2 separate regions of the Homo sapiens genome follow, and region 2 is linked to region 1. The links come from fine-mapping of genetic effects on gene expression. A gene starts in region 1. The other region holds a variant in brackets. All regions are shown on one strand. Distances are between the middles of the regions.

What was found.
Region 2: its variant is fine-mapped to the expression of EPB41L4A in whole blood (TOPMed, PIP 0.97).

The regions. Positions count from the first base shown.
Region 1 is chr5:112,416,430-112,421,806 of GRCh38, forward strand. It overlaps EPB41L4A (erythrocyte membrane protein band 4.1 like 4A), which reads right to left and starts at 2,848. Exons shown (of 23, transcript NM_022140.5): 1 at 2,512-2,848. The coding sequence starts at 2,610. EPB41L4A-DT (EPB41L4A divergent transcript) reads left to right here and starts at 3,154. Exons shown (of 1, transcript NR_027706.1): 1 at 3,154-4,549. RefSeq lists a silencer at 3,513-3,602.
Region 2 is chr5:112,373,989-112,379,365 of GRCh38, forward strand. The region is part of intron 1 of EPB41L4A (erythrocyte membrane protein band 4.1 like 4A); the gene reads right to left. Among named protein-coding and RNA genes, the nearest start is that of EPB41L4A, 43 kb to the right of the region's middle. The variant G/C (reference allele first, on the strand shown) is at 2,143.

The sequences.
Region 1 (5,377 bases):
AGCCATCTTCATCTAAGATAGAATAGGAAAAAGGATAATCACAAAATAAATGTTAGGAAATGCTTTTGAAAAATAGAGATTTTTCTAGTTAATTTCAGAGAACAGTAGGCTAATTGATGTTGCCTGCTTAATTTTGACTTTAATTAGTGGTAATCAAAATTACTAAGTATACTATCTCAAGGAAAAACACCATAATGGTAGCTACTGGCTATTAACTTTGAAGTAACTGTTTACTTTTTCATTTACAAACTAAAGTAGGAGTTAATTTTAAGTAATTAATGCAACACACATCAATTGTACCTATGCACCATAATACAGGAAGGTTAGGAAAAAGTTTTTTAAAATGTCAAGTATGTACAGAACATAAACATGTTCATCCAATGTTTGAATACCTCTACATGCAAGTTTTTTTATACACACCATTTATAAATATGCAAATATATTTAATTTAGTACACGCCAAGGGTGGGTAGGTGTTTAACACATACACTTTTAAGGTAGCATAGAAGATAATGTGATTAGCTTTAGCAGACAACATCTGTGTTACACACATGGCCATCAAAATAATTGTGGCATGCTTTTGTGACAAGGACAGAGGCCAAGCCTGTTGTTAAATGATTATTTCCAACAACAGCCTGCTTAAATTATTGTTTAGTTATATGGCCCATATCCAAAGTAACAGTATTACATAGTTGCTGTTGCCTTTGAATCACTCACCAATTTTCAGCCCATTTGTAAAACAAGATAAGCACCACTGGATTATAAAAAATAATTATGGATCAGGATTTTTGATTCATGTTTCTTTGACAAAATTATTCCATTTGATCCCAAGTCCTGGCTGCTCTCTTGACAGAATAATGTACACGCTCTACAGCTGATAGGCATGACTTTGATGATTAAATAGGAAGCTCACATTCCAGATGACTTTAGACTCCAGATAATTTAGACTTTGCACTTCAAAAAGATTTCTTTACTGTCTTAGTATCTGATCATCAGTTACCTTTTTCTAATTGTTTCTATCTCGACACAAGAATCTATATATTATCTACAATTTAGGATGTTTTTGTGATTTTTGCCTATTTTATTCATACAGTACACCAAAGAATGTTACATCATCTTGTAAGTTACAATATTTTCCTGATTTCATTGGGCGGGTGAGAGGAGAAATATTTTGGAACATAAAGAAAAGTTAAAAATACAAAATGTACACCCTCCCCGAAAAGAGTCTATTTTATTGGTCTTGAAAGGAAATACCGAATGAGAATCGAACTGAATTTTGCTCAGTATAATTACTGGGGAAACAATATTCAAAACAACCTCCTAAAGGAAAGGGTTAACAATCTTGTAGCTTTAACTGATTATTTTTGCTCCTTTCTCCCGCAAAAGAATTACACCTATGAAACTGGAATTCTGTACACTAAGAATGGCAACATTAACGCTGAAACTTTTAGCCAGGAATAGTTATCCTAGTGTGCATAAAACTATGTAAAAACTGATTCACAAAAGGAAATGCCCAGGGCCTACCCCATTATGATTAACTTCTGAGATGAAGCGACTAAGAGAGGATACTTGGCAGCCTGAACTCGATTTCTCAGAAAGCCAGCTCTATCAGAGCGGGGGCGGGGGGGCGGTTTCCCTTCACCAGACTCAGCTGTTGCCTTATCTAAAATGCCTTAGCGATCTAAAACTGAAAGAGAAAGATAAACAAAACAACAAAACGCTCCGGATTTAGATCTCCTTTAGGTAGTTAACACTGTTGCAAAAGCAAAACAAGCACGCAGGCGCGTCGGTCAGGTTGTCACTACAAACATACGTACCTTCTCATCCAATGTAAGGAAGAGGATCTCTGCGAGCTCTGCTGCCTTTTTGTTTGGGCTCTCTAGGTTAATGTAGTGATTGCATTTTAATGACCCACAAACAGGAGCAAAGTTATTACTGGGTCGCTTTGAGAGATGTTTACTTAAATGTGAGGATAAACCCAGGTCGCTGTAGAAAGGGAAAATATTTTCCGTCCAAACGTAGCATTACCCAACTACGAACCCACGCAAAACAATCACAATGACCCATTAATGCGTTTCAACGAGTGAACTAGTTCACTTCCCTAATAACACTGTCAAGGAAAACGCCTTCAACAAAGTCGAGGGAAACCATGCCTTCCACACTGGTGGGACGCAGCTGGTATAACCCATTCTGCCCCTCTTTGAGAGCTGCGGGGCACCCAGAGGCTTTTGGAGAAAACCGGTTTGGGGAAGAGTTTTGGGGTGCTGCTGGGAGCCGGTGTGCTGAGTAAACTTAGAAACGTCAAACTCAACTTTGCTTTATGAAGGAACTCAAAGTTAACTCACCCTGGTACGTCCACCCTCTCCCTGCGCGCAGGGGACAGCGGCCTCTCCTCCCCACCGCGCAGAGTCGCGGCCGCCGCCCTCGACCCACCGGTGACAGCCCTCAAAGCGATGGACCCCCGCACCCGCCCTGCCGCCAACCCCCGGAACGCGCTCCGGGCCGCACCCACCTTGATGCCCTGCTGCTGGGTGGTAAGGGTTAACTTGGATTCATCCAGGAGCAAAACTTCGCAGTAAAATTCTTCCGGAACAGCGCAGAAACAGCCCATGTCGGTTGTGGTCGTCTCCAGCCAGGAGAGAAAGCTACCACCGAGGCGCCCAGCCGCCCCCTCCACTCAAGCGCGATGCATTAATTTATTGTCCGCGCCGTGGCGAGGGTGAGACGAGCAGCTCCCGGCGGGGTCCGGGGACCGGCCGCCGAACCGCCCGGCGGGGCGGGAGCGAGAAAGGCGGAAAAGCCCGGGAGAGTCAGCGCCCGGGAGCCGCCGGGGAAGCGCCGGCGGAACTGGGCGCGGAGGGCGGTGGCGCGTCCCCGCGCATCCTGCGGCTCGAGCTCCTCCGAAGGCGGGGGCGCGGGGCCCCTCCCGCAGTCCTGGGGACGACAAAAGTCTCCTGGCACTGGGGGCAAGAGACCAGAAAAAGGAGTGATGGGAATTCGAGGCTCTCCCCGGCCTTGGAAAACCCTGGAAGCGCTGCACCTCCCTCCTGCCGCACGGATTTGAGCGCGGCCCCGACGTCCTGGCGTCCGATCGGCCTGCGGAGTCCCCCGCGGGCGCGCACTTCCAGCCGCGACCCCGCCCCGCAGCCCCGGGTCAGATCCGCCGAGTATGAAGCGCTCGGCTTTTCTTTTGTGTGAGGAGCACCCACGACGCCCCGACCATGGGCGCAGGGGCAGAGGCGAAGGTCGTCGCTCCGTCCGCTACCCCGTCCCCCAGCCGCAAGCGCCGAGGAGCCGGAAGAGAGGCGGAAAGGGCAGCAGGCTCCTTACCCAGACCAGCGAGGGGAGGTCAGCTCGTCGCGGGGTGTGGCTCCCGTCCGGGGACTCCCGAGCTCATTACGGGTGGCCGTGTGTAGCCAAGTTCAAGCTCTCCCTCCGGGAATGCCTGCCGCGGCGGCGGAATACGGCTTCTTCAGGACATTCAGCAAAGCGGGGAGGCGGGGACCTGCGGGCGGAGGAGCGACGCCCCAGCTGGGAACGCGGCGGACGGGCGAGCGGGGGGTGCGCCCTGGGCGCGCCAGGCCGCAGAGGCTCCGGGGAAAGTTCTCTTGGCCGCGCGAGTGGTGGCGCCCCGGGCGGGAGCAGCCCAGGTGCATGTGGGCCCGGTCCAGGCGTCTGCAAAAAGCCCTGGAACGAAGCGGACCCCCCAGTCCAGCGCTGGCCGCGGCAGGGGAGCCCCTTCTGGGCGGGGTATCAGCTGGGGGCGGAGGGCGGGGCAGAGACCGTGGTCCCAGCGGCGAGGTGCCGGCGAGTCCACGCTGCCAAGCCGCACACTGCGCCCAAGCCGCGGGGCAGTCCAGCGCTCGCTGCGTCCTTCCCCCGAGAGACCTGGAGGCTGGGTGGGGAGAAGAGGACGCGGTGCTGCTCGGACCCCACGGTTCGGCGGTCCCAATCCCACGCCCTCCGCGCGGTCGGCCGCGTCCAGGACTGAGGGGCACAATAGCTCTGAAGCTGCAGTGACCCCTGGTGGGTCCCGATGTCCGTGCACAGGCAGCCGAGGTTGAGCTGCGGACGACACTGAGCCCCGCTGGGCTTCGGAGCAGGTGCAATCTGTGCTCTCCAGCTGGGAACCAGCAGCGAGTTAATGCGAGTCGCAGTTAGGGGAGACACGAGGGGAGGTGTCACAGAAAAAAAACTCTATATTGAGTTTTAGAGTTAGAGCTTTGGCATCAGACGTAGTTTTGAGTTGACTATTCTACTGCTTGTTAGCTGGGTAGCCAAAGCTCAAAAAAAATTGCTTAAAACCTAGGACGTTAGCCCTTAAAACAAAACCAGGCTTCCGTAGCACAGTAGAAATGAAATGAACAATTGGCGACTTTTGATGGAGTTTCCTCTCATAGTGATTTGCCACAAAGGACCTTCTGTAGGAAGCCTCGGCCTTCCCTGCTATTGTGACCCCATCCAAACACAGGATCAGCATAACCGCCAAAGTGCAATATAAATTTCTGAACTTTACCTAGGCTATGAATAAAACTATTTTATCTTCTGAATTTTCTGTGAAATTGACTCAGGTTTTGAATTTCTGATCAAATTTCGTGTCCAGCTTTGTTTTATTGTCAAAGTCTTGCCTGCCTTATGAGGTGACACCTTATTATGCTAGATTTTAGCATTTCTGCTTGTAGAGGCTTTTCTTTTCTGTAATACAGTATTCCTGACAGGAGTTACCAAATGTGATTGAAAGATGGCTTAACATTTTCATTCTTTACCTCCATATCCAACCGAGACACTTGAGGCTGCAAAAACAAAAGGTTCAAGCAATCATCTGTTCCCAGTTTTTTTGAGTTTTGCTCTCACCTGTTTTTTGGCCCTTTGATTTGGTTTTTTTGCTTTCTGATTTTTGGTTTTGCTGTTGTTTGTTTTTGTTTTTTTACCTCCAGTGGCAGTGAGAAGGCTGAGGGTTTTGGATGGGCAGGGATTCTGTTCCCAGCTCCTCATAAGGTAAGTTACAAAGCCATAAGGTCCCATACATATGACACTCTTTCCTGAGTGAAGCATTTTCTTTTCCATTTCTTTATCGGAGACTGGAGAAAAGAACATTTAAAATCTATTTAACACAAAATTAGAGATTACTAGTGACAAGAGGATTCCACAGAGTTTCTAAGGATAGCTTTATTGCATATAATTTACATACAGTTCACTGCATAATTTTTAAGTGTACAATTTGATAAGTTTTGACATAAGTGTGCACCCATGAACCCACCACCATAATCAAGCTAGTACACATATTCATCCCTCCCTAAGGTTTCCTCCTGCACTTTGTCATCTTTCTTTTTTTTTTTTTTTTTTTTGAGACAGAGTCGCGCTCTATCAGAGTGCAG
Region 2 (5,377 bases), 42 kb before region 1:
GAGAGCAACTCATGTATACACTTGTCAGTTCTGTCAGAATGTAACCCTGCAGGGTAGGAAGCACCCATCTTCTGTGAGAACTTCCCACAAAGAGAATTATTAGTGTGGAATGAGTGCTCAGTTTAGAAATAAATAGCATTCTTCAAATGTCAGAGGCATCCCCATGGAATAACTCAGGTCCCCAACAAGACTATTAAGCTGATATTACAAACCGTAGCCATGAAGAAAGGAGTTCATCTATGCTGACAGTGATTGGGAGTGGAAACAAAAAGGCTGAGAATGTTCTCATTACCCAACAGTTTCCTGGATTAATCTTCTAAGAATGAACAGAAGTTTAGAATTCAGAGCCATGGGATCACCCAAAGCTGTAGATCAAAAAGAAGAGCAAAAAGCAGCATTATAAGAAATATCTATAGTCAGGGGAATAAATACGTTGACAGTTAAAGATGATGAAAAGAAGTTAAAGTCTTCTAAATAAAAATGATTCGCACTATAAAACACTCTGGCCCAATCACCTAGGTTACATAACAATAAGAGTTATAAATATTACTCAGCAATATTTTGCCTTCCAGGTCTTCATGGTGCATCTTAATACAGTTCCAAAGTTACCCCAGCAAAAGAACTCTGTGAACGCACACTCCTAGTGCTGGAGCTCACCACAAACGTGTGCTTTCTCAAGAATCATACCTGGTTTGGGTTTTATTTTCCTTCTTTAAAAGTGCATGCAAATTTTACATTCTATTCTATAAAAGATCGGTTTTGATTTTTGCCTGGGGAAGGGGTCAGAAGGTAATTTAAAACATTATTTTTCTCAGGCAAGACTGTCACTACTAAAAGAGGGGCCAAGTCTATCCTGTGGCCTTTCACATTTCCCCACCATCACCTAGAATGGATGTAGAAAACTCTGAGTTTGACAGCAAACTTCTACGTTTTTTAAAAACCACAAGGTGATGTTCAACATTCAGGTTCTCTTTGTCTGCAGAGCAGCAGCTCTGAACTCCAGCTACACGTAACAATCACCTGGAAGGCTTTTTATGAATACCAGTGCCTAATCTCCACCCCAGATCAGCAGGATCAGAATCTCCTAGTGCAGGAAGAAACCATTCTGTTTTGTCGTTGCTACTTTTAGCTCCACTGGGTGACTTTAAAGGACAGAGTTGAGACTTACTTGCTCAGAGGATCCAAAAGAAACACTACGGTCCCAGAGTGAGCCCAGAGTGGTGCAGGAACACCAGAGTCAACCCCTGGGGATGATCACGTTGTCCCTTCCTAAACCTAACTATCTTGAAGACACTGACCCACAGACCATAACAAGGTCAGTCTCTCTCTCTCTCGCACACACACACATACACACACACACACACACACCCCTTCCTCTATTTAAAAAAAAAAGCTACCTAAAACAGAAAGTTTACATGAGATCCAGAGTCTCAAACACAATGCAAAAAATGTTCTGGTTTCAATGAAAAAAATCACACCAAGAACCAGGAAAATCCATACTGAATGAGAAAAGGCAACAGATTCCAACACCAAGATGGCAGAGATGTTAGAATTATCTGATAAAGCTTTTAATGCAGCCATGATAAAAAATTCATAAAACAAAAATTCTTCAATGATCAGTCATAAACATGCTAAATGAACTAAGAGAAATGCCATTATGCTCCTCAGGCCCTTGAGGTAGTTGCACTGCTGGCCCAGCCAGGACTGTGTAGGTCTGGGCTGGTGAAGGTTGGGAAGTTTGTTTTGGTGGTGGGAGCTCATGGACCCTAATTACACTGTACATTGCAATGACGATGATCTGCTGGTAGATGTTCACTGTAATTTGCCTTTGGATTGATGGATCTAAACTGACTTCACGAATTAGAGTGGTCATGAGCCAAAGACAAGAATCCTTAGAGAGGAGCAACATCCCTGGGGAGTGAATGACTGACAATGTCTGTGCCTCCAAGGGGTTAGGGTATGAAAAAGAGGCAAGATAACTGTCCCCAGGGGTTGGCTTTAATAATACCGAAAGCATAAATAAAAACAAAAACCAATACACTGGATTTCATAAAACTTAATAACTGCTGCTAAGCAAAAACCCTAGGAAGAGGATTAAAAAGACAAGCTACTCAGAGAAAGTTTTCAAACTACATATCCAAA[G/C]AGAGGACTAACATCTAGAATATGTAAAGAACTCGCAAAACTCAACAGCAGAAAAATAATACATTTAGAACATCAGCAAAACACATAAGAGGATATATGACACTTCACCAAAGAGGATACAGATGGCAATTAAGCACATAAAAAGATGTTCCACATAATTAGCCATTAGGGAAATGAAATTAAAACCACAATGAAATATCACTATATATCTAACAGGATGGCTAAAAATTTTTTTAAATAGTGACGCCACCAAATTCTGCCAAGGACACAAAGAAATTGGGTAACTCATACATTGCTGGTGGGACCGTAAAATGGTATCGCCACTTTGGAAAACAGTTTGGCGGTTTCTTAAGAAATTAAACACACAACTGCCATATAACCCAGCTTTTGCTCTCTTTGGTATTTAGCTCAGAGAAATGAAATTTTATTTTTAAACATAAAACCTGTACATGAGTGATCACAGCAGCTTTATTCATAAAGTCAAAATGATAAACAACCCACACATCCTTCAGCAGGTGCATGGTTAAGTGTTAGTACATCCATACCATGGAACATTACTCATCAATAAAAAAGGAACAAACTGTTGACACGTGCTACAAACCCTGGAACTGCTGACACATGGAACCAACCGTGGAACTATGATAAGTTAAAAAGCAACCCAAAAGGTATGATTCCATTGATATGACATTCTTGAAATAAAATTATAGAAACAGAGAATAGATTCTTGGTTGCCAGAGTTTAAGAGGTGAAAGAGGCAAGGAAGAGAGTACGTCTATAAAAGTGCAACACGTGGCTGGGTGCGGTGGCTCATTCCTCTAATCCCAGCACTTTGGGAGGCTGAAGCAGGAGGATCACTTGAACCCAGGAGTTGAAGACCAACCTAGGCAACACAGGGAGACCCCGTCTCTATAAAACATAAAAAAAATTAGCCAGGCACTGTGTCACACACCTGTGGTCCCAGCTCCTCAGGAGGCTGAGATGAGAAGATCACTCAAGCCGTGGGGGTCAAGGCTGCAATGAATCATGATCATGCCACTGTACTTCAGCCTGGGTGACAGAGCAAGATACTGTTGTCTGTTTGTTTGAAAAAAAAAAAAAAAAGACAATATGTGGAATCTTTGAGATAATGGAAATGCTCTGTACCTTGAATATATCGATTATCAATATCCTACTTGTGATAGTAAATACAGTTTTGTAAGAAGTTACCATTGAGGGAAACTGGGCAAAGGGACACAGGATCTCTCTGTATGGTTTCTTAAAATGGCATGTGAATTATCTCAAAATAGAAAGTTTAATTTAAAAGAAATGAAAGGTTACTGGCCCACTGAACCCTGACTGCAGCAAACAGCAAGTACTTGGAAGTGACCTTTAAGTGTGCTCCAGATTTTCATTTACTGGCCATTTTCAGCTCTACCATTTCATCCATGATTCATGAGGCCCAGCAACTCAACCAATTTTATTCAATAAAAAGGGGGCATCCTGTAGTTTTGCCAAGACCAATTATTCCCATGGCGACCCTCAACATAATATTAACTATCAAACCTAGAAAACACCACAGCCTGGAGTGGACCACTTTCTCTGCTGCTACTCTCTTTGTTCTCTTGCACCTCTTCAGAGAAAGGTGCTAAAATAACTCAAACCCCTCTCTTCCCAGTACCATTACCTTTCCAGAGCTGCCTTCCAGAAACTAACTTAATCTTCACACAAATTGGGAAGAGAAAAAAAAAATCACACTGCTAACCCCCCATCTTTTACATTACAACAAACCCAGTTCTCAGGGGGAACAAAAAAGGATACTACTCTACAGCATATCTAGGACAAGAAGAATCCACCTGTGACTTAATTCATATTTGGACAACTCTGAATGCATAAACACCAGGTCCAAAAACAAAATAAGATGCAACCTTGGTTTTCTACCTACAAAGTACAGTCCTTAAAACAGATATAAGGATTCATGTTTCCATCTGCACGGAGAAATTTATTTCAACATAAAAAGATGAAAATCTATCCTAAATTGAAAGCTCTCCAGAGATGGAAAATTCACAATCTATCCTGATACTCCTGGTATTTCCCAGCCTCTGTCAGGCCACACTACCATCTGCATCCTATCTTGGTAAAAATTATGTCTGTTCCTCTCATGATTGTAGGAATTGGTCTATATAGCTTGCAAAATTTTAGTCACTCCTAAGAATGCAAGTTACCTAGAGCAGAGAGTAGTTTCTCTAGCCCTGTAATCTACCCTTTAATTTATAAATCTTTTCTATCCGTCAGAATTCAGGAGTTCCATAGTTGATATAATCTTAAAAAGCAAAAAATTCAGGATGATCAGGATATAAATTATATCTTAACAATACAGATTAACAGCCATAAGAAATATAGAGAAAGTTTCCCAGACATTGTTTCCTCGATAAATTAACAACAAAATTTGTAACACAGAGAAGACATCACACAATCATTTAACTCATGCAAATTAAGGTAGATCCACTGGGGTGGAGGGCTGTGGAGAAGACAGGGAAACTCCAGAAGTCATCCTTATTCCCTCAGTTTCCCTGATGCTTTCCTGAAATGCACTTAGAAACACTGAGTCTTCTTCTAGTTCAAGTACATTTTTTGTGCATGTCCTCTAAAACAAACTTCTTCACTGGATGCTCAACTGAACATACAGTCGTTATTCCAGGAAGGAGGAAACATGGGCTGTTTGAATGGCTGGTAGGGTGGCCTCCATAGTGGAACCTTTCTAAATGGCTTAAGTCTAGTTCTAACCCACACTATTTTTGTATCAAGGGCTGAATTTGGAAGCCATTCCACTGTGATGTGTTCTCCAGCAGTCCATGTCCACTCTCCTGTGAATTAGTTATATGCAGGTGTCTATGAGCGTGCAGGGGTGTACAGATGTGCACATACACAAACACCTTTACAAAGGTGGTGGAACACACTGAGCTAATATCAAATCAGTGCATTCTCTCAGTGGATACTCATTCCAAGAGGCGAGCACCCTGGGGGGGTCAAGCTAGCCCACTGGCTTTCAGTGGGCATCAATGAAGGCAGAAAAGCATATACATGTCCCCCCATTTAGAATTTTTGCTTAAAATTAATAACTGCAAGTTTTTTAAACGCTTCCTTTTATGTACTAAACCTATAAAACAATTAGAAGTCCCCAAAATTTTCCCCACATAGGCTGAACATCTAAAATCCCTTCATTACAAAATAAAGTCTTGTATCCCACAACAAAGCC